Linked DNA regions of Homo sapiens. The protein of the gene in region 1 purifies or fractionates together with the protein of each later gene. This does not show direct contact. Each region holds a gene or a part of one and is shown on either strand. Other genes may lie near its edges.

Region 1 (11,170 bases):
AGATGCAATGCAACCCACACCATGAATCTGTTAATTCTGTCTTTGTCAAACTACCCAAAAAATCAATTTGTCTTTCTTGTTATTGCAGGAAATAGAGGTTTATGCCTCATTAATCAGAAGGGGAGCAGTTTAGGAGCAGTTATTTACTAAGCCCTTTAAGTTATACTAGACAGACCATTTTAAAATCACAGTATCATTTTAGAAAAATACAGTCCAAATAGCAAGTTTAGGGTACCAATCATTTAAAATGTAATAGAGATGAGTACACATAGACACACTCACAACCTTAACACTGAGCTTGAGGAAAGTATAAAGCTTGCTCATTTTAAAACAAGATTCTGCCAGGCGCGGTGGCTCATGCCTGTAATCCTAGCACTTTGGGAGGCTGAGGCGGGTGGACAGCCTGAGATCAGGAGTTTGAGACCTTTAGCCTCAAAGCTGAAACCTTTGGTTTCAGCCTGACCAATATGGTGAAATCCTGTCTCTACTAAAATTACAAAATTACAAAAATTAGCCAGGCGTGGTGGCATGTGCCTGTAATCCCAGCTACTCGGGAGGCTGAGACAGGAGAATCCCTTGAACCCGGGAGGCAGAGGTTGCAGTGAACCGAGATTGTGCCATTGCACTCCAGCCTGGGTGACAAAGCGAGACTCCGTCTCAAAAAACAAACAAACAAACAAAAACAAGATTCTACTTCTTTTGAGATTAAAGTTATGATTTTTTATTTCTAGCATTAACTGAACAAAAATTACGTTACTCAAACATAACCTTAGGAAAAGCAACCCTGTAGCGTATAACTATTACTGGAAGTAGTGAGGAAACTTTTTACTCCAACCCTTGCCAGTTTGGAAGGGATGAAATATGTTCCTGGCATTGCTGGTGGCATCTCAAGGCACATTTTAGTCCCTAAATGAAAAGGCAAAGGTTTCCAGGTGAACCTACAAAAAAGCTACTCAACCTGACTGCACGAAACAAATATCATCCCACCATACTTCTTAGATAAAAAGTGCCCTACATTGAAAGATCCACATAACCTCTTCCGCTAAACAAAGGCTTTCTTTTCTCCTTCTTCTACACATTCTCCCTATGGAACCTGGTCATTCCTACTGCTTTAATGAACCTATGGTCACTCTGCCATCTTCCATGCTGACCCACCCACATACATTTTTGTTCTTCAGACATGCCGTGCTCTCTCTCACCTACATAAAATACTCTTCTCCCCTCCTTCCAACTCCTACCCATCGTTCAGATGAGAAACTACTTCCTTGTGGAAGCTTCTGCTAGCCAACCTCAGCCCTAAGTTCAAGTTCAGTGTCCCCACAGAATGCTACCACACCATCTCATGTTTCCTCTCAAAGACCTTCTCAAATCATACCTTAGGATAACTACCTGTTGACTTGTCTGTCTCCCATTGGACATGAATGAAATGAGAAACCAATAACCAATTAGAGACACATTTAAAAGATATAGGACTTCATGTGTAATCTGTGTGGCAAGTCATCAGTCTCTGCTTCCTTGTCACTAGTTAGAATATAAGACTTCAAATAAACCTCTGCTTTCTATCCTCATTTTAATCTAGAGTAAGCCTGAGGTGGGTAGAGGAGGGTGAAATACAGTGTTTTAACCCTTAACATTTAAGGACTGTTTAAAAAGGTAACAAACAGGAGGTCTGATTAGTTTAACAGGAAGATCTAGTTAGATAAAATACCTCCTCAGCCATTAGAAAATTCAACAACAACAACAAACAATGAATTATGGCATTTTACAAGACCAAATAAGAATCAGCATTGAAGCTTCTTCTACCCAAGACAATAAAAAAGAGAACTGGGGCTGTCATCCATACAGTAGGGACCTTCAATAAAGCAAGAGATGAAGATCTTGAGAAAGGAAGTGATAACCAAGCTGTTGCTCACAACCAAGAAGGTTTCTGAGAGGAAAGAGAACTTTAAAGAGAATTATCAAGAAAAATGTTTGAAAACTAAGGGAAACTAGCAGCTTTTAGGGAGTCAATACATGTCTTCATGAGTAGGGCTAAAAAGCTTGCTGTGGGCTGGGCAACACAGTGTCATACAACATATATTTAATGAATAACAGGAGAAGCAATTTGACCTTGGTTGTTCTACCTGGCCCACAAATGGCTGGTGGGCTCTGCCTAAGCTGAACATGTAACAAGAGTTGCTGGGAGTGCTTTAAGCAAAGCTCAACAGTAGATCAATCTTAGAATACAATGATTATATAGTCCTGTATTCCCAAATTCTTTTCAAAGAATGCCCTCTTCTTAAATTACAAAGAGCAGAACAGACACTGCAGACATACACAGACAAACGCAACAAGCATCAAGACGAGCTCTCAAGGAGGACAGTCTTACCTCACTGCTCTCTCCAGCCTCAGGAAGCCCCTTTCAGCAATGTGCAATACAAGGAGGAATCAACATCTCAACTGCAGACGGAATGCTGACATGCTGCTATAAACCGTACAGAGTAAGAAATGATCTTGTTCTCTTTGGGCCAAATTTTTATGAATTTTCTTTGCATTAACAACATCACATATTCAATGTGTTTTTTTTTTTCCTTGCCATATCACTTGTCACTGCCCCTCCAGCCCAGAACCTATTAAGAGGGTTCTCAGATGATGGTTTCCAAGCTTCATCAACCTTAAGTGCTAGCATATAGCCAACAAACATGCAAACTAACCCCTTAAATTTAGACAACTGGGTCAGAGAGTCCACTAAAATTGAACGATTCTTCAAGTAAGTATGAACGGGTATCTTACCTCTTAATTCTATCCTGTGCAAACAGCTTTCTTTGTATAGCCCCTTGGGCCATCTATGTAGGTAAGAGGAAATAACATCTACATCAAAAGCTACTCAGAAATGTAGAGAGGAGAAAGGAAGGACAACCCCAAACTTGGCTATGTATTTCAGAATAAAAGATGAAGCATGCTACACAGAGGGGAAAGGGAAAACATGAACACAATGAAGCCACTAGCAGAAGAAGAGTTTTAAAAGGGGCGGCGGGGAGGTTGCCATAAACATTTCAGCCTGTGCTTTAATCAATACTTCAAGATGGTCTGGGCATGGTGGCTTATGCCTGTAATCCCAACGATTAGGGAGGCTGAGGTGGGAGGACAGCTTGAGCCCAGGAGTTCAAGACCAGCCTAGCGCAACATGATGAAACCCCGTCTCCACAAAAAATTAGCCAGGCATGGTGGTACGCACCTGTAGTCCCAGCTATCTGGGAGGCTAAGGAGGGAGATCAATGGAGCCTGGGAGGTTACGCCACTGCACTCCAACCTGGGCAACACAGTGAGACCTTGTCTCAAAAACAAACGAACAAACACAAAAACTTCAAGATAGAGTCTGTTATTTTTGTTTTGATGTCTATAATAGGAGAAATAAAACATCTTAATAGTATAAACGTTCATCTGTCCAAACTTCTATGGAAGACCTTCCATAACCTAATGCCCAACTTAGACGCATTGCTCCAAGATTTCTTGCTGAACTATCTAGCCCTGGGCACAAAATACAAGGGAAGCAGGTTGTCACATGATTCTGACCCTGAAACTTCCCCAACAGCAACAACTGCCGGAGTGCACATGTATCCAAAACTAGAAGGATATGTCCCAAAATGTGTAAGGTGCATCCAAAGAAACACTGCTTACCATTGTTAGTGTAATCAGAATCCCCTTCTACTGCTTTCTCAGTTGTGTTTACTAACAAGATAACAAAAGGACTTTAAAAATCAAAATCAGCTGGCATGGTGGTTGACACCTGTAATCCCAGAAACTTTGGGAGGCCAAGGTGAGAGGATCTCTTGAAGCCAAGAGTTCGAGACCAGCCTAGGCAACATAGTGAGACCCTGTCTCCACGAAAAAAATTTTTTTAATTAGCTGGGTATGGTGGCATGTGCTTGTAGTCCTAGCTACTCTGGAGGATCACTTGAACCAGGAGTTCAAGGTTACAGTGAGCTATGATCGTGCCTCTGCACTCCAGCCTGGGTGAAAGAGTGAAGACACTGTCTTTTTAAAAAAAAACAAAAAAAACACAACAACAAAATAAAATCAACAGAAGGAAGGGATGGAGACAAGGATCCAGGCAGAAATGGAGATTCTGGTAGTCTAATGTAGACACTCTACTATTGAAAGATTCCCTTCTCTTTCAAAAAAAGACAAGCTAGTAAAACCCACTTACTCTAATACAAGTCTGGCTACGACATAAGCCTAAGTATGTGGTTGCCAGTTAACACCTTAAAAGGTTCTTGGCAGAGGACATAAGACACACAACATCTAGGACCTCCACCCTAAAAATGGCTTTTTTTTTTTTTTTTTTTTTTTTTAAAGACGGAGTCTCACTCTGTCACCCAGGCTGCCACCTGGTTCAAGCGATTCTCCTGCCTCCGCTTCCTGAGTAGCTAGGATTACAGGCTCCTGTCACCGTGCCCAGCTGATTTTTGTATGTTCGGTAGAGACGGGATTTCACCACCTTGGCCAGGCTGGTCTTGAACTCCTGACCTCGTGCTCCACCCACTTCAGCCTCCTAAAGTGCTGGGATTACAGGCTACCACTGTGCCTGGCCAGCTATCATTTTTTTAAAAGCAGGGATTGAGACTGCCAGCAACAAGGTTTATTTTAACATGCTCCTCCAAAACACCTCTGGGCAACACTTTGGTGCCAGGGCATACACAATTTTTGGAGCTGGGTATGATGAAAGAAACATTTGCCTTTTTAGCATAAAGCAAATATAAAGCTCCCTCTCTACCCTCCCTCCCACAGAAGAACAGGAAATTTCATGAATATATCTGTACATTTGCTTCTCCAAGTAGGGGAATAACTCTCCCTAATCAGCAATACATATGAAAAGCAAACTCTCATGTGGAGGAATGCAGACAACTACAGCCATCTAAGCCCTGCCACTTGACTCAGTTAATTTGCTTAAAACCATTTACAGAGAGGAGACAGGTTAGATTTTACTTCTCCTTTGCCTTATCATGAACATCTAAAGCAATGAAAATTGAAACAGATCATATGGACAGTACCTTCCAGAAGTAGTATTGCCACTTTAAGTCAAAGTCATATGTTTGCGGAAAAAAGCTGCTCTACAGCAAAACCAAGAGAAAGTTTAGAAAAATAGATATGTAGCCCTTTTAGCTAAAGAAAGATAAAGACCAAAAAATGATACACAATTCCATCAATGGGAACTCTGCACTCTACCAATTTTAAGGCAAACTCCATGTCTTCTTTGGTTCCACAGCCTGAACCTCTTGAACCCAAAGAGTGGGCAGGTGAGAAAGATGGCTGGTGACCTGGAAGGGGCTGTGCTCTCTGGGCACCATGATACTGCAAGCATTAGTGCCCACTTCCTCAGAGGCCTTCAAAAAATAATTACTCTTGATTGCACTGATGCTTCTCTGGGCAATTTTCCTTGCCCACAAATCTGTTATAATAGTACTGAGATAATATAATTTAAGTAGTCTCCATTTATTAGTATTTAAGAGGTAGGCCAAGCAGACTAAAAACCAAGAGTTTAAGGGCACGGAGATGCTTTTCCTTCTGCATGTTAACACACAACTCATTCCTAATCATGGTGGCTCTAATCCAACTGACTAAAATGCTTTTCTCCCCAAGGAACTAACGTAGTTACTTGAGAGAAGAGTTTAATCCAGCTTCTCCTGCGTGGCAAAGGGTTTTTTTCATCAGAGGGTAGCTGACTTCAATAAGGGCATTTACAACATCCCAAGGGCTTATTTTCATTTAAGAAATTTGGCCGGGCGCGGTGGCTCACGCCTGTAATCCCAGCACTTTGGGAGGCCGAGGCGGGTGGATCATGAGGTCAGGTGATCGAGACCATCCTGGCTAACAAGGTGAAACCCCGTCTCTACTAAAAATACAAAAAATTAGCCGGGCGTGGTGGCGGGCGCCTGTAGTCCCAGCTACTCAGGAGGCTGAGGCAGGAGAATGGCGTGAACCCGGGAAGCGGAGCTTGCAGTGAGCCGAGATTGCGCCACTGCAGTCCGCAGTCCGGCCTGGGCGACAGAGCGAGACTCCGTCTCAAAAAAAAAAAAAAAAAGAAATTTAAGAGACCACTCCTATGAGACTACTGTCCTTAGAACTTTTGGGGGCAAGTTCCTGTAGAACAGCAGCTCTGAAACCTAGGGTGAGAGACCCTGTAGGAATCGGACTCAACCTTATCCACAGAAAAATGAACAAGCAAAAAAATTTCACAAGACAGTTTATGGAACCAGGTTAAGAAGTTCTAGCCTATTGAGAGAGACTATAGGAAGGATTAAGGTCAGAGGGGGAGTAGCATTCCCCGGGTCTAAACCAGGACTTGTTTCCTTCCCTTCTTTAACCAGCAAGAAGGAACAAAGAGGACGTACTAGTGCAGGCTCATTACTAAGGACTCAAGAGTCTGTTCACTGGCAACTTTGGCTTGGGAATTTCCATTCAGCCTACAAAATGTGTCTAAGAACCACAATGCCAATCTCATCTTCTTTGCTTCCTCTGTCCCTTCACAGGTGTCAGACCTGCCCTGTGGTACGAAGACTCTCAGAGCATTCCTGCTGCCTTCTGTCTCCCTTTGTACTTCGTAGGCATTTTTGCCTCTTGTACTTCTAATTCTACCTTGGGATCACTTCTAGGAGGACTCAAACCACACACCTGCACTGCTGCAGTTTTCATAGCACCTTTACACAGAGCCCTAAGGAAGGGACCTTGGAGTCTCACAGCTCTCACTCCAGCACAACACTACAACAGAAAAATTTTACCCAAGACAATTACTTCTTAGATCTGCCCAGTGGGATGAATCCCTCAGAACCAAAAAGGCCAACGATGTTCTTGTTTCACAGACACCATCAGTAGTTTTAAAGATGTCTGTCCTTAGGTCTGAGACAAGACCCACAAAGGGTAAGTGCCAATGATATGGGAGAAATAGGTATGTTGGGTCAAATCAATAAGGCAAGATGTAGAAAAGGGCTTACCTTTGTCAGGCCTGAAAATATAACATCTAGAAACATCTTTTGCATTTATATAACACTAAACATGGAGCTATACATCCACAACTGAGGTCTGAAAAGTGAAGACACCATTCAACAGGGAGAAACTGGAGTTAGGGCAAGCAAAATCAAGTCAAAACAAAAATCCCAGTCCAAAGCATGAGTGACCTTTTGTATTCACAAGACAGGTTCTAACAACAGCAGTAGGCTCAGTTAAGTCAGCCACTTGGTGGCTGGGAACTAGGGTGCAAATGCTCTATTATTTCAGTGTCACAACCACCAACCTCAGTACCAGCGGAGGCTTTTAGTTATGGAGTAGGTGAGATTCTGAGGTAAAATACAAGGGGCCATGTCAGAATCCAGCTACACGGTATCACTTGTCCTAAATCATCTCTGCTTTGCTGTTAGGGCATGTGCATTAAAATGACTGTATCAACCTGCCTTGTCCTCCCAGGAGGACATTTAAAGATCAACTCAGCATTATTTTTTCAATCAGTATGGCGACAAAACATTGTTATAAAATAGGAGAAAGAGAAATCTTTTTAGAGTTCCCCTGAAATTCTCAAAGAAAAAAATAACCACATGCTTTGTTTTGCAAGCTTCCCCTCCCCCTTTATTCTTCGTTTATAATGTTAAGCTCTTGATGACAAACAAGCCAAGCCCACTTAGCTAGTTTATCAACACATCTAAAGCAAATCATAGTCATACTTTGATTTTAACCAAGCATGACAACAAGGCAACTGAATAGCTTTCCAAACTACCAGTGCAGCGACACTACCTTGCATAGGCTGGTGTTAAATCAGCACTTCATAAATTGTGCAGGCTTCTGCCCATTTAGATGATCTCTCTATGCAGAATCGGCAGTCTAACACTGGCTCTCACAAGCATTAAAAATCATCACTCTGCTAACCCAACTCACTGTTCAGATGGGTCTTCTTGAATGCAGCCTTTATTACAACCTCACTGCTGCTTCCTACACTGAAGGAATATCATGTTTTTAAGTCAGGAGTTCTTCTTTCTCGCTTTATTGTAATCAGGGGGTCCTGCAACGACCCCGATGCTGTTACAAAGCATGGTGCTTTATAACAGTAAAGCTTCTGGAAAACCCAAACAAAAGACACGTCATCCGGTGACGTCAGCCTATATACAGTTCTGTGTGGTCGCAGCACATAAGCAAATCCATTCTTGTGCCGTTTCTCGGAAAAGCTTTTCAGTAAATGCACTCATGCTGCTCCAGGAGCTCTTCTCTGCAACAAGCCACCCATCTGCCATCAACAAGTTAAGACCAAGAGAACTAACGGCTGCGGAAAGGAGACTGAAGCTTTGATTAACCAGCTGAGCAGTTAGAGGTGGAGAAATTTAATAACTTATATTCAAAACTGATTTAGGGATCAGAGCAATCACAGAAAATGAAACCAATGCTTTCCAGAGGGATATCCTAAGGAAAAAACAACTCGTCCTGGTGGATTCAATTTTACTTGGAAAGCCTGGGACACAGAAAACAGGAAACTGGTCAAAGGCTCCTACATGTTAGAGCCTTTTACAGACTCACTGCGTTGAGTCTAACAACCGCGACTGAATGCAGCCTCCAATGTGCTCAGAAGAATGGGTAAGTCTGTGCATTTATATGTCTTGTACATTCAACAAGGAATCACGCTTTTAAAATAAGCTACCGAATTCACATTTTATGAGGGAAATCACCATCATATTTTGGATTTTGAGGTTTAGGTAAAAGCATATATCGATGATGACAGAGACATGTTTTATCTTCTTTTTAAATGGCTTAAGTTTTGGTCCAGTCATACCAATAAGGTTAATTTTTCTGCAGTAAATGAAAAATAAGTTATATGCAGTGAAATCTTTTGCTATAATGTTGGTGGTGGTTGTTTTTTTTAAATAGCCCATATGTTCTGCTGAAAAATATCCTATCTTCTTGTTTTCCTTAAATTATATTCTGCAGGCTTACATTTCAAGTGGCCATTAGGGGCCCCTATGCTGGCAGCAATATATGCAATGAGTATGGTTTTAAAAATGCTGCCTGCCCTGGGTATGGCGTGTCCACCCAAATGCCGCTGCGAGAAGCTGCTCTTCTACTGCGACTCTCAGGGCTTCCACTCAGTGCCAAACGCCACAGACAAGGGCTCTCTGGGCCTGTCCCTGAGGCACAATCACATCACAGAGCTCGAAAGAGATCAATTTGCCAGCTTCAGTCAACTTACTTGGCTCCACTTAGATCACAATCAAATTTCAACAGTAAAAGAAGATGCTTTTCAAGGACTATATAAACTTAAGGAATTAATCTTAAGTTCCAACAAAATATTTTACTTGCCAAACACAACTTTTACCCAACTGATTAACCTGCAAAATTTGGACCTGTCTTTTAATCAGCTGTCATCTCTGCACCCAGAGCTCTTCTATGGCCTTCGGAAGCTGCAGACCTTGCATTTACGTTCCAACTCCCTGCGGACTATCCCAGTACGCCTGTTCTGGGACTGTCGTAGTCTGGAGTTTCTGGATTTGAGCACAAATCGTTTGCGAAGTTTGGCTCGCAATGGATTTGCAGGATTAATTAAACTGAGAGAGCTTCACCTAGAGCACAACCAGCTGACGAAGATTAATTTTGCTCATTTCCTACGGCTAAGCAGTCTGCACACGCTCTTCTTACAATGGAACAAAATCAGCAACTTGACATGTGGGATGGAGTGGACCTGGGGCACTTTAGAAAAGCTAGACCTGACTGGAAATGAAATCAAAGCCATCGACTTGACAGTGTTTGAAACGATGCCCAATCTTAAAATACTCCTCATGGATAACAACAAGTTAAACAGCCTTGATTCCAAGATCTTAAACTCCCTGAGATCCCTCACAACCGTTGGTCTCTCTGGCAATCTGTGGGAATGCAGCGCCCGAATATGTGCTCTGGCCTCCTGGCTGGGCAGTTTCCAAGGTCGGTGGGAACACTCCATCCTATGCCACAGTCCTGACCACACCCAAGGAGAGGATATTCTAGATGCAGTCCATGGATTTCAGCTCTGCTGGAATTTGTCAACCACTGTCACTGTCATGGCTACAACTTATAGAGATCCAACCACTGAATATACAAAAAGAATAAGCTCATCAAGTTACCATGTGGGAGACAAAGAAATCCCAACTACTGCAGGCATAGCAGTTACTACCGAGGAACACTTTCCTGAACCAGACAATGCCATCTTCACTCAGCGGGTAATTACGGGAACAATGGCTTTATTGTTTTCTTTCTTTTTTATTATTTTTATAGTGTTCATCTCCAGGAAGTGCTGCCCTCCCACTTTAAGAAGAATTAGGCAGTGCTCAATGGTTCAGAACCACAGGCAGCTCCGATCCCAAACACGACTCCATATGTCAAACATGTCAGACCAAGGACCGTATAATGAATATGAACCCACCCATGAAGGACCCTTCATCATCATTAATGGTTATGGACAGTGCAAGTGTCAGCAGCTGCCATACAAAGAATGTGAAGTATAATATCTACCCATCATCAAAAATCACATCAGATAAGTAACCTATTTTACATAGTAGAGGCTAAATACATATCTAATTTTTACCAATGGTGACATTAAGCCTAATTTTCCAAACTAAGTGGAGACTTAGTTTTTGAAGTGTTGAAGTATTTTTAATTTTTTAAATGAAACCATATTTTAAGTGTTAAATGAATCAATGCTCACATTAATTTGCACTCCTGTTGGAAAGTCTAAAATGCTTACTTCAAAATAAGAAATGTATGTAATTATATACAATCGTGTGTAAACCTTTACACTAAGGTCTCCATATACTATTTTTTTCTACTGAAAACAATTTAGAAAGAAGCTATTGGGCAGAAACAGATATAGATCAATACCTGTTTGATCACTGCTCTCCATCCCATGTACCACAACTATCTTGCTGCTTAAAAGGAGACTTAGTAAAGTTCTCTTGTATGATAATTTGGTATTTACTCAAATCTTCAATTTCTTGCCAGGGTGGGAAGTAGAATTTCATGTATGCTGAAGACTGGTAAATATTAAACATTCTCCTTCCAGAGTTTCTGCCTGGGTTAGTAGATATTATCAAAGTCCATATCATGAATTCAGAACCCTTTAATGTAATTCTAATAAGCTGAGTGACTCTTTAATATATTTACACAATGAATCCAAGTGACT
Region 2 (10,203 bases), on another chromosome or scaffold:
TGCAACCTCCGCCGCATGGGTTCAAGTGATTCTCCTGCCTCAGCTTCTCGAGTAGATGGGAATATAGGTGTATGCCACCACGCCTGGCTAATTTTTCATATTTTTAGTAGAGACGGGGTTTCACCATATTAGCCAGAATTGTCTCAATCTCCTGACCTCATGATCCGCCTGCCTCGGCCTCCCAGTGCTGGAATTACAGGCGTGAGCCACTGTGCCCAGCCAGACATGTATTTTCGTTTCACTTAATAACTAGGAGGAGAATTGCTAGGTCATCTGAAAAGCATATGTTTAACTTTTTAAGAAACTGCCACACTATTTTTCAAAATGGTTGTATCATTTTACATTCCCACTAGCAATGTATGAGAGTTCTGATTGTCCTAGATCCTTGTTAATTATTTGGTATTATCAGTCATTTTAATTTTAGCGTTTTGTAGGTATGAAGTGATATCGCATTATAGTTTTCTTTTGCATTTCTGTGATGGCTAGAGATTTGAGCGTCTTTTCGTGTGTTTACTGGCCACTCACATGTGATCTTTTGAATAGTGTCTGTTTAAATATTTTGTCCATTAAAAATTGTATTATTATTGAGTTGTAACAGTTCTCTGTATATTCAGGATGTCAATCCTTGGTGAGATATATGTATTGCAAATAATTTTCTCCCAGTTTATGCTCTTCCTTTTTCTTTGTTTAGTGTTGTCTTTAGAAGAGCTGAAGTTTTAAATTTTGATGAAGTTTACTTTACTAGATTTTCCTTTCATGGCCCTTCTTTTTGTGTCCTATTAAGAAACTATTTTATTCCTCAAGGTTTTGAAGAGTTTTCACCTGTTTCTTCTAAAAGTTTTATAATTTTTGCTTTTTTTTCTGTTTTTTTTTATTATTATACTTTAAGTTCTGGGATACATGTGCACAATATACAGGTTTGTTACATATGTATACATGTGCCATGTTGGTGTGCTGCACCCATTAACTAGTCATTTACATTAGGTATATCTCTTAGTGCTATCCCTCCCCCCTCCCCCCACCCCACGACAGGCCCCGGTGTGTGGTGTTCCCCACCCTGTGTCCAATTGTTCTCATTGTTCAATTCCCACCTATGAGTGAGAACATGCGGTGTTTAGTTTTCTGTCCTTGCGATCGTTTGCTCAGAATGATGGTTTCCAGCTTCATCTATGTCCCTACAAAGGACATGAACTCATCCTTTTTACTTTTAGAGTCTGTGAACCATTTCAAATTAAGTTTTATGAGTCCTACAAGGTAAGGGTCAGGTTTTTTTTTTTTCCTCCATATGAGTAGGAAGTTGTTACAACACTGTTTGTTGAAAAGACAGTTCTTTCCCTCATTGAATGATCTTGCCACCTTTGTTGAAAATCAGTTGGCTTGACCTATGTGGGTCTATTTCTAGACTATATTCTGTTCTATTGATTTATATGTCTATTTCTAGCCAATACTAAACTGTCTTAATTACCATAACTTTATAGTAAGTCTTAAAATCAAGTAGTACAGTTTCTCCAACTTTATTTTCTCAATATTTCTTAGGATAGTCTACATCTTTTATATTTCTAAATAAGTTTTATGATAAAGTTGTCACTTCCTATGGAAAAAACGCCTTCTGGAATTGTTTTTGAGATTGCATCTATAGATTAATTTGGGAAGAAATCAGATCTTAAAAAGATTTAGTCTGTTGATCTCTGAACATGGTATGTTTCTCCAGTTATTTAGGCCTTTAAATTTTTGGAGTACTATTTTGTGGTCTTCATTGTTTTATATGTATCTTGTTAAATTTAAATTTATCCTGAAGTAGTTCATATTTTTGGATGCCTTTAGAAATAGTAGTTTTTCAAATTTCAATTTGGAATTTTACATTGCTTCTATGTACATTGCTTGTAAGAATAATCTTACACATTGTTCTTGTATCCTGTGACCTTGCTAAATTGCCTGTTGGTTCTGGTAGCTTTTGTGTAGATTCTTTAGCATTGTCTATATACATGGTTTTGTCTATGATAAAGATAGTTTTACTTTTTCCTTTTCAACCCGGATGCTGTTTTTTTCCTTGCCTTATTATATTGGCTAGAATGTCCTGTACAATGTTGAAGAGAAATGGTGAGAGTAGACATCTTTGTTTTGTTTGTGACCTTAGTGGGAAAACATTCAGCCTTTTAACTTAAATAAGATATTAGCTATTAAGCATCTTATAGATATCCTTTATGAGGTTAAGGAAGTTCTCTTTTATTTCTAGTTTGCTGAAAGTGTTTATCATGAATGGGTGTGGGATTTTGTCAAATGCTTTCTTCTGTATCATTTAAAATAATCATAGGGGTTTTCTCTTATATTCTGTTAATATAGTGGATTACATTGATTGATTATTAAAATGTTACATAAATCTTTCATTCCTGTGATAAACCCCATTTAGTCATGATGCGGTATCCTTTTTGCATATTACTGAATCCATTTTTTAAAATATTTTCAAGGATTTTTTTCCAGTGTGCTAATGGATATTGGTTTGTAGTTTTCTCTGTAATTTTTTTCTCCTTTTTGTATTAACATAAAATTGGGCTCATTAAATAAATGGAAAATAATTTCTCTAATCTCTGAGTTTATGTAGGTTTGATATTATTTATTGGTAAATGTTTGATAGATTCACTAATGAAGTCATTTGGGCCTAGAATTTTCTTTAAAGGAAGGTTTTTGATAACAATTTCTTACATAGATATAGGGCTATGCAGATTTTCTATTTTACTTGTGTCTGTTTTACTAAGTTGTATTTATTACGGAATTTGCCATTTCACTTAAGTTTTTTATTGTTGGCATGAAATTGTTGATAATAGTTTTTTGTTATCCCTTTAATGTCTGTAGAATTTGTGGTAATGTCTCCACTTTCATTCCTGATATTGGTGATCTGTGTTTTCTTTTTCTGTCTTTTAAAATCACTCTACCTAGAGGTTTGTCAGTTTCATGGATTTGTTTCAAAGACCCAGCTTTTGGTTTCATTGGTTTTTCTGTTTTAGATTTCATTAATTTCAGGTCTTTTTTATATCCTTCCTTCTGTTTACTTTGGGGTTTACTTGGTTCTTCCTTTACTATAAAGAAAATATTGATAAATTTGACTCCATAAATTGTTTTTTAAAGTTGCATGGCAAAAGCCACTGTGGACAAAGTCAAAATATAGCTATCAAATAGCTGTGATAAAATACTTACAACATATATCAGAGGGCTGGTATGCCTGATATATAACAACCTCTTAAAAATTAAGGGATAAAGGACCAAAACCTGATGGAAAAGTTAAAGGAAAGTTATCAACAGACAATTCACACAGAAAAGATCAGGAAATGTTCCTCAAACATATTAAAAAATGTGGAACTCATACTTGAGAAACATTAATTAAAATAACACTGAGATACCATTTCTCATTCATCAAAACTGGCACAAAATTTTAAATTTGTATTTTATTTTAGTTTTGAGACAGGGTCTCGCTCTGTCACTCAGGCTGGAGTGCAGTGGCATGATCACGGCTCACTGCAGCCTTGACTTCCCAGGCTCAAGTGATCTTCCCACCTCAGCCTCCTGAGTAGTTGGGACTACAGGTGTGTGCCACCATGCCTGGCTAATTTTTGTATTTTTTGTACAATTTTGGTTTCACTATGTTGCCCAGGCTGGTCTCAAACTTGGACTCAAGCAACCTTCCCGCAAACGAAAAATTTACAAGTCTGGCTACACATTCTGTTGATGAGGCTGTGGAGAATCAGGCACTCCTGCAAATGTTCTTTTTCAGTGTTTTCTGGATTTCTTCTGTGTTTGTGTTTTTTCAATATATTTTTAGCTATTCTTGTATATTGATATGAACTTTAATAGTTTGTCTAGCTCTGTAAAAAACCATGTTGATATTTTTATTGCAATTGTGTTTATTGTTTATTGCAATTTATAAGCTAATTTAGGGAGGCAGTTATAGGAAGAAAAGCATGGAATGAGACAGGAGTGAGGACAGAGCCATAAAGTTCTCTAATATTTAGAGAAGGGAAATCTAGAATGGGAAATGGAAAAGGGGTGGTTGATGAGAGTTTTAAGGAGGAGGAGATAGTTTTAAAGAGCGTAGATGTGCTGAATACTGATGAGAAGTGTCTTCAGGTAATGTATTGTTTAATACATGAATGAGGGACACTGTTCTTAGGCCCTTTTGGGGATCCAAATAATCATATATACATTGAATAAGGTGTAATGTATACATTTTATTCATTGATGTATTGAATAAGATGTATTATTGAACACATGAATGAGGGACACTGTTCTTAGGTGCTTTTGGGGATATGAATGATTATATAAACATTGAATAAGACCCAAATCCTATTCTTAAGACATTATTGTCTAAAAAGGAGCAGGAGATATGCTAACTTGACTTTTAAACTTTATGAGGAGAGGTACTAAGTTTGCAGTATTCATCACTGCATCCTTAGCATTGAGTCTAGTGTATATAGTTGATTTTTAATATATATTTGTTGACTGACTAATAAATGATCAAAATGCTCTTTCACAGGTTTATTTAATTATTCCACACTTAAAGATATACATTGAATAAGGTATAATGTATACATTTTATTCATTGATGCATTGAATATTATTCCACACTTAAAGATATATACCAGAAATGAACAGTTCATTCACCTAGGTTTTTTTTTACATTTGTAAAAATGTAAACCCTATGATTTTAATTTATTTGAATCATTCATGTTAATAATTAGCGAAGTCTGAGGGAATAACATAATCTATGGAGAAAGCATAGAGTGATCAGAAAACCTACTTGAATATGCCATGTGCCGTTAGGGATTCATTTTAGGGCCAGGTGACTTTCATTGGAAGATACTGATAAGGGCCTATTGGAATAGACACGAGTTACACTGAAAAGGATTATTTGAATTTGGGCAGGTGGAGACAGGAAGAAGTATGTTCTGGATGAAGAGAGAGATTAATTGTGCAAATTTTTCTTTTATAGATATATTTCAGTATGCTTTGAATTATTGCTATGAAGTAGATGTTATATTTATTCATTCAGTGTATTCTCAGTGCTAGGCACTATAGAGAATATCAAAGTAGGTATAAGTGCCATATTGTGTGTCACATTTTACTGGACATTTTGAAATGGTGTAACTTGAGATATAAAGAATGTGGCAGAGCTTTAAACAAATTTCTTTACCTGAATTAATTTATATTTTGGGATATGTTAAAAATGCCAAAATATTTTTAGGGCTTCTATTTTCTTTTGTTTCATCTCCTTTTTAAGTAAGAGACTATGAAGCCAAATACTATTTAATTTAGGTAATATACTTTTTCTTTTAATAGTTTGCTAAATAAGGAGACAGTTTTATATTTTATTTGTAAAAGAATAAGGATTTATTCTATTTGTCACAAGTACATTTGTCACCTTGTTAAATCAAGGTCTGATAAGAGGCTGAATTCACAAAATTTTGTCCTTGAACTTCATGTGTCTATCTCAGCTGTAATTTCTGATGCCAGCAATACTTCTCAACTGAGTGATGAGTCTTTTGGGAGTGGAGATTCTATTAAAACACTTGAGTTTGAAAAATACTTATTATAGTTCATGTTCTCAGAAAATATTTTAAACCCTGACACTCTTCTCTTTTGGATTTTGTAAAAAAGACGTTGCTGTTTTCCTGACAGTAGACCATTGTTTTTGATTGGAATTCTATTATCTTTTATTTGCAGTTCCTTAAGTCAAGCTATGACCAAGGTAATTATGCTAGTGTATCTCATTGTAACTATTTATTCTAAGGAATAATTTAATATAAAAAAGTCCTTAGATCTTATCCAATAATGGCATAAACTTGGAGGTTAATGTTATATTTGGACTCCTCGTTTTACATTCTCTCCAGGTGTGTACACTCATTTATGCATTTACCTTTCGCTTGTATGATAAATGACTTCCAGATCTATATCTATTATTTAAATGTTCCTGGGAAATCTCTATTACTGCCCTTTCTCTTCTTTACTGTTTGGTAATTACTGATTTACTTGCCTGTCTCTGGCTAGTCTGTAAGCTCCTTGAGGGCAGGGATTACATTCAACATCTTCTGGAAGACAGTTAATGCACAAGCAGAATATTTTAATCATATTGTTAGTTTTAGACTTAGTGCTGTATTGTACTTCAGTTTGCCCTTCTACAGTGTAACCCTTTTGGGGTCTTACTTTAAGCCTGAAGTACATCCCTGGGCAGTTTCACCTTGTCTGACCTTGAATTCCAACTTATCTTCCCAGTACCAGGCAGCTGGCTGCTAAAGTATCTGCTCAGCTCTTTGGCCTCTCAGCTATTGCTGTCTGCTAGGCTTTTGGATTCTCATCCTTCTTATGTATGCAGAGTTTAGGGATTGGTAAATTCCCCCAGGGCAAATTGCACGAGGATTTTAGGGCTCACTTCCATGCGACATCCTCCTCTTTGGGCTGTATTGACCTCAGGTCCTTACAGCTTTGGCCTTCTCACATTCCAACCTATGGCTCCTTATCCCCCCTGGACTTCTGCTTTCTATTCCCCTGTGCTGTGAATTTAGGTACATATCTTCACAAGAAAAAGCAAGGGTAAATGTGGAACTCACTTTATTCAGCTTTTTTTCTCTTGAATAGTAGCCCCATCAGGTTCTGCCTATTTCAGTTGTTTCCCAGTGTCTTTTAGCAGTTACTTTATGTACTTCTGTCTTTTGTTGATTTTGGTGAGAGACTGAGTCCTGATATAAGCTATTTAATCATGACTGGCCTGAAGTCCATGGGCATGTATTTAAAAAAATTTTTTTTTTAAAAATTGAGTTCAAATTCACATAAAATTAGCTGTTTTAAAATACACATTTCAGTGACGTTTAGTACTCTCACAATGTTGTGTGTGGATGTGTTTTTAATTTATATAAATGATAGTACACTATGGCTCTTGTTTTGTGTCTCATTTTCACCTAACAGTATGTTCTAAGAATTTTTCACTTTTTCTTTTCTATTCTAAATATTGCATAGCATGCATTTAACTTATCTATTCCTTTTGTGATGAATATATACTTTTCTTCCACCTCCCCACACTGTATTGCAACTAGTAAGAATTTATTCTTGATACCATTTTCCCCAAGCAGGTAGGTTATGTAGGGGTCTTCTTTGAAAATTTGATCCCCAGAATTTCTAGTTTAAGTCATTATCTGTGTTCTGGAGGAACTGACTCTTGGGGAAATTCCTGGATTCTTTGGAGCTGTTCTAGACTTGAAAGTTCTCCTCCCAGATTTATTTTGGCATTAGCCTAATTTCTTGAGTATATCTAAACATCTGTGAACACTGTGCATTTTGCCACATAAAGGAATAGGAGCACTCTCTACCCCTTGAGGTCTTGGTTCCTTTATATAAAAATATATGTGGAAAAAATTGGGGGACATTCTACAATCTGTTGAGGGTAGCATTCTGCAAGTCACTAAAAGTCTGTGACTTTAGATGATGATAGTCAGTGTATTTAGTAATCGAACTCAGAATCTGGATATTGCAAACTTCTTTACCACTTATTAGCTTTGTGATTTTGGGCAAGTTATTTAACCTCTCAGAGCCTTGGTTCCACATCTCAATGATGAGGGTAATAATAGAATAGTTGTTGGGTTAAAGTTAAAGAGAACGACAATGTAAAGCACTTATCTTCGTTCTGACACATGTTAAATGCATAGTGATGTTGATATTTTATCTTACTTCCTTTGAATACTAAATGCATTTTTGTGAAAGTGGTTATTCTACTCATTTGGCACCCCAAAATATGGTACCTTGTATTATTTTTAATGAGTTGTGTTATTTTCCATTAAGTAGAATCTCATGGAGAACAGAGATTTTACCAGAATCTAGCTTAGATTGCTTCCCCTGCAGATTACATTAATAATGCATTTTGATTTTTTTTCCTTTTGTTTCTCTCTCTTGAGAAACAGAAATCATTTGTATTTAAATTCAAAATTAAACTTTTTTCCCCCAGATAACCATGATGACTACACAGACTTCTACTATGACATTTGCTCCTTTTGAGGATACATTGAGTTGGATGCTATTTGGCTGGCAGCAGCCGTTTTCATCATGTGAGAAGAAAAGTGAAGCAAAGTCACCTTCCAATGGCGTTGGGTCATTGGCCTCAAAGCCGGTAGATGTTGCCTCAGATAATGTTAAAAAGAAACATACTAAGAAGAATGAATAAATTTACGTGATGAGCTCTACAAGGCCAAAAATTTTTTTTCTTATCTACCTGTTATATTGTGCTAATTTTTCTATGTATGTGATGTGAAATGAAGACTATATATATGGAATGGAGGTGACAGAAAGAAAGAAATTCTTTGTTTGAGGGAGACTTCCCCTTTCTGGATTGTATTTGTAGAGTGTTACGAGTGTATCATGTGATTATGCTTTACCGGTATAAGAGATTCTGTTGTGATTATTTGAATAGTTTTATATTAATAAAAGAAGACAAAATTTTTTAAATGTTAGAAAAAGCAGATCTGTCATTGCAAAGTAACAAAAATTTTAAGCTTTTAAAAATGTAGATTTTTCATATTTTTAAAATTTGAATCTATTTGAGCTTTAGTTCAGCAGAATTAAATTTTTACTTGACATTATCATTAAAATTGCTAGGTATGGAGAACAATTCCTATTTTATTTTGAACACTGAGAAGAGTAAACTTTTCCTAAAACACTTTATATTATAAATGAAAATAAATTGCTAGTTTATATTTTAGATATAAACATCATATTTTTTATTAATACCTACATCAAATGGAAAATATCTGAAATTTTTTTTCCATAGCAGGTATTTTCTACTAGAAGTAGTTTTACTACTTTTCATTTAGAACAGAGTATGAGTCTTAATCTGAAGTCTTTTTCATGCCCTTGTTTTAAAAAAACTACTTTTTTTGGCCTCAAAAAAATCAAGGGTGTAATTTTTAATAAATTGTTAATCCTATGTTTTGTAATTTTCATTTTAGGAGCTTGACTTATTTTTTTCTCTCTCATAAAAACACATTTGTTTTAATTGTAGGAGAAATTTTCTCAGCATTTTGCATGTTCTTTCTAATCTTTGTTGGTCTGAATATATTGGTAGTAATTACTGTAATTATTCAACAAAAAGCATATCCGTTCAAAAATTTTTCCACTATGTCTTTTTTCTAGTGGCTACTGTTTTAGTTTTCTAGTTGAATATCTCTGACAAGCTTTCGTATGGTTTTGTTATATTTTCATCTACATGTAATGTGTTATTAATTTTATTAAATGAAAACTAATCACCTTCATGTGGAAATGCTCTGAGAATTGTCCTTAGGCATTTGGTAGTAACCAGCTAACCAAGAAGAAACAGAGAAACCAGAACTTCATATGGCAGTCCATTTAGATGAAGAATGATGATATAAAATCTGGTTCCTTCTTAGCAAAATAAAAAACAAACAAGAAAAGATACTAAATGATGTTAATTTTCTTACTTTATGATTTAGAAGTCCAGTTATAATATTAAAACTCTGTGACATAGTTTCTTTTACCAAAACCATGAACCTACTCCCCGTATCAGGTATTTTCGATGGTTTAGAAGTACTCAAGTCACATCACATTCAAGTTAGAAGTTTTTTTTTTGTTGTTGTTATTTTAAATTTTTAACAAATATAAACACCAGCAGATACTATTACTTGCTTAAAAAATTGGGAGGGGGCACTTTTCATAGTCTTGGAATGCTAAGAAGTTTTATTTTTAATATTGTGACAGAAAGCTTTAAGTATTTAAGAGCTCTGTATTATATTTGATACTCTTACAGTTAAAAACTTTTCAAAATTAATACATTGTTAATTATTGACCAGTTTTGAAGTTTGGGTTTAACTGTAGTTGAAATGGAAGGACTCTTGTTTTACACTTGTATTAAAGATAAATTTATTAAAATAAGTTATTTAGCACCAATGGAGTATTACATTATTTTTATGTTTTATATTTTTCTTGAGGTAGAGTTTCAGAACTCATCTAGTATTTTGACTAATATAGTATATATTCAGTGATTACTGTTCAAATGGGACATTGGTAGAAACTTTATTAATCTATGCAAGTATCCTATAACCCTCAATTCAAGGCTCTTTTGTAAAAAATGTACTGGAGAACATGGCTTAGGCCTGAAACCCATCCTGAATCTATTCAGGTCACCTGTAGAGTCTTGACTTGGATTTGCAA

The links.
Region 2: the proteins of LRRTM2 (region 1) and TMEM38B purify together in Homo sapiens (affinity purification with mass spectrometry; 3 studies listed by BioGRID and IntAct, with this or other methods). This does not show direct contact.

The regions. Positions count from the first base shown.
Region 1 is NC_000005.10:138,872,336-138,883,505, reverse strand, and holds the start of LRRTM2 (leucine-rich repeat transmembrane neuronal protein 2 precursor), read left to right. Parts: upstream 1-8,170; 5' UTR 8,171-8,594; coding exon 8,595-8,598; intron 8,599-8,949; coding exon 8,950-10,496; 3' UTR 10,497-11,170. UniProt on the Homo sapiens protein: Involved in the development and maintenance of excitatory synapses in the vertebrate nervous system. Regulates surface expression of AMPA receptors and instructs the development of functional glutamate release sites.
Region 2 is NC_000009.12:105,765,878-105,776,080, forward strand, and holds part of TMEM38B (trimeric intracellular cation channel type B), read left to right. Parts: intron 1-7,987; coding exon 7,988-8,203; 3' UTR 8,204-10,203. UniProt on the Homo sapiens protein: Intracellular monovalent cation channel required for maintenance of rapid intracellular calcium release. Acts as a potassium counter-ion channel that functions in synchronization with calcium release from intracellular stores.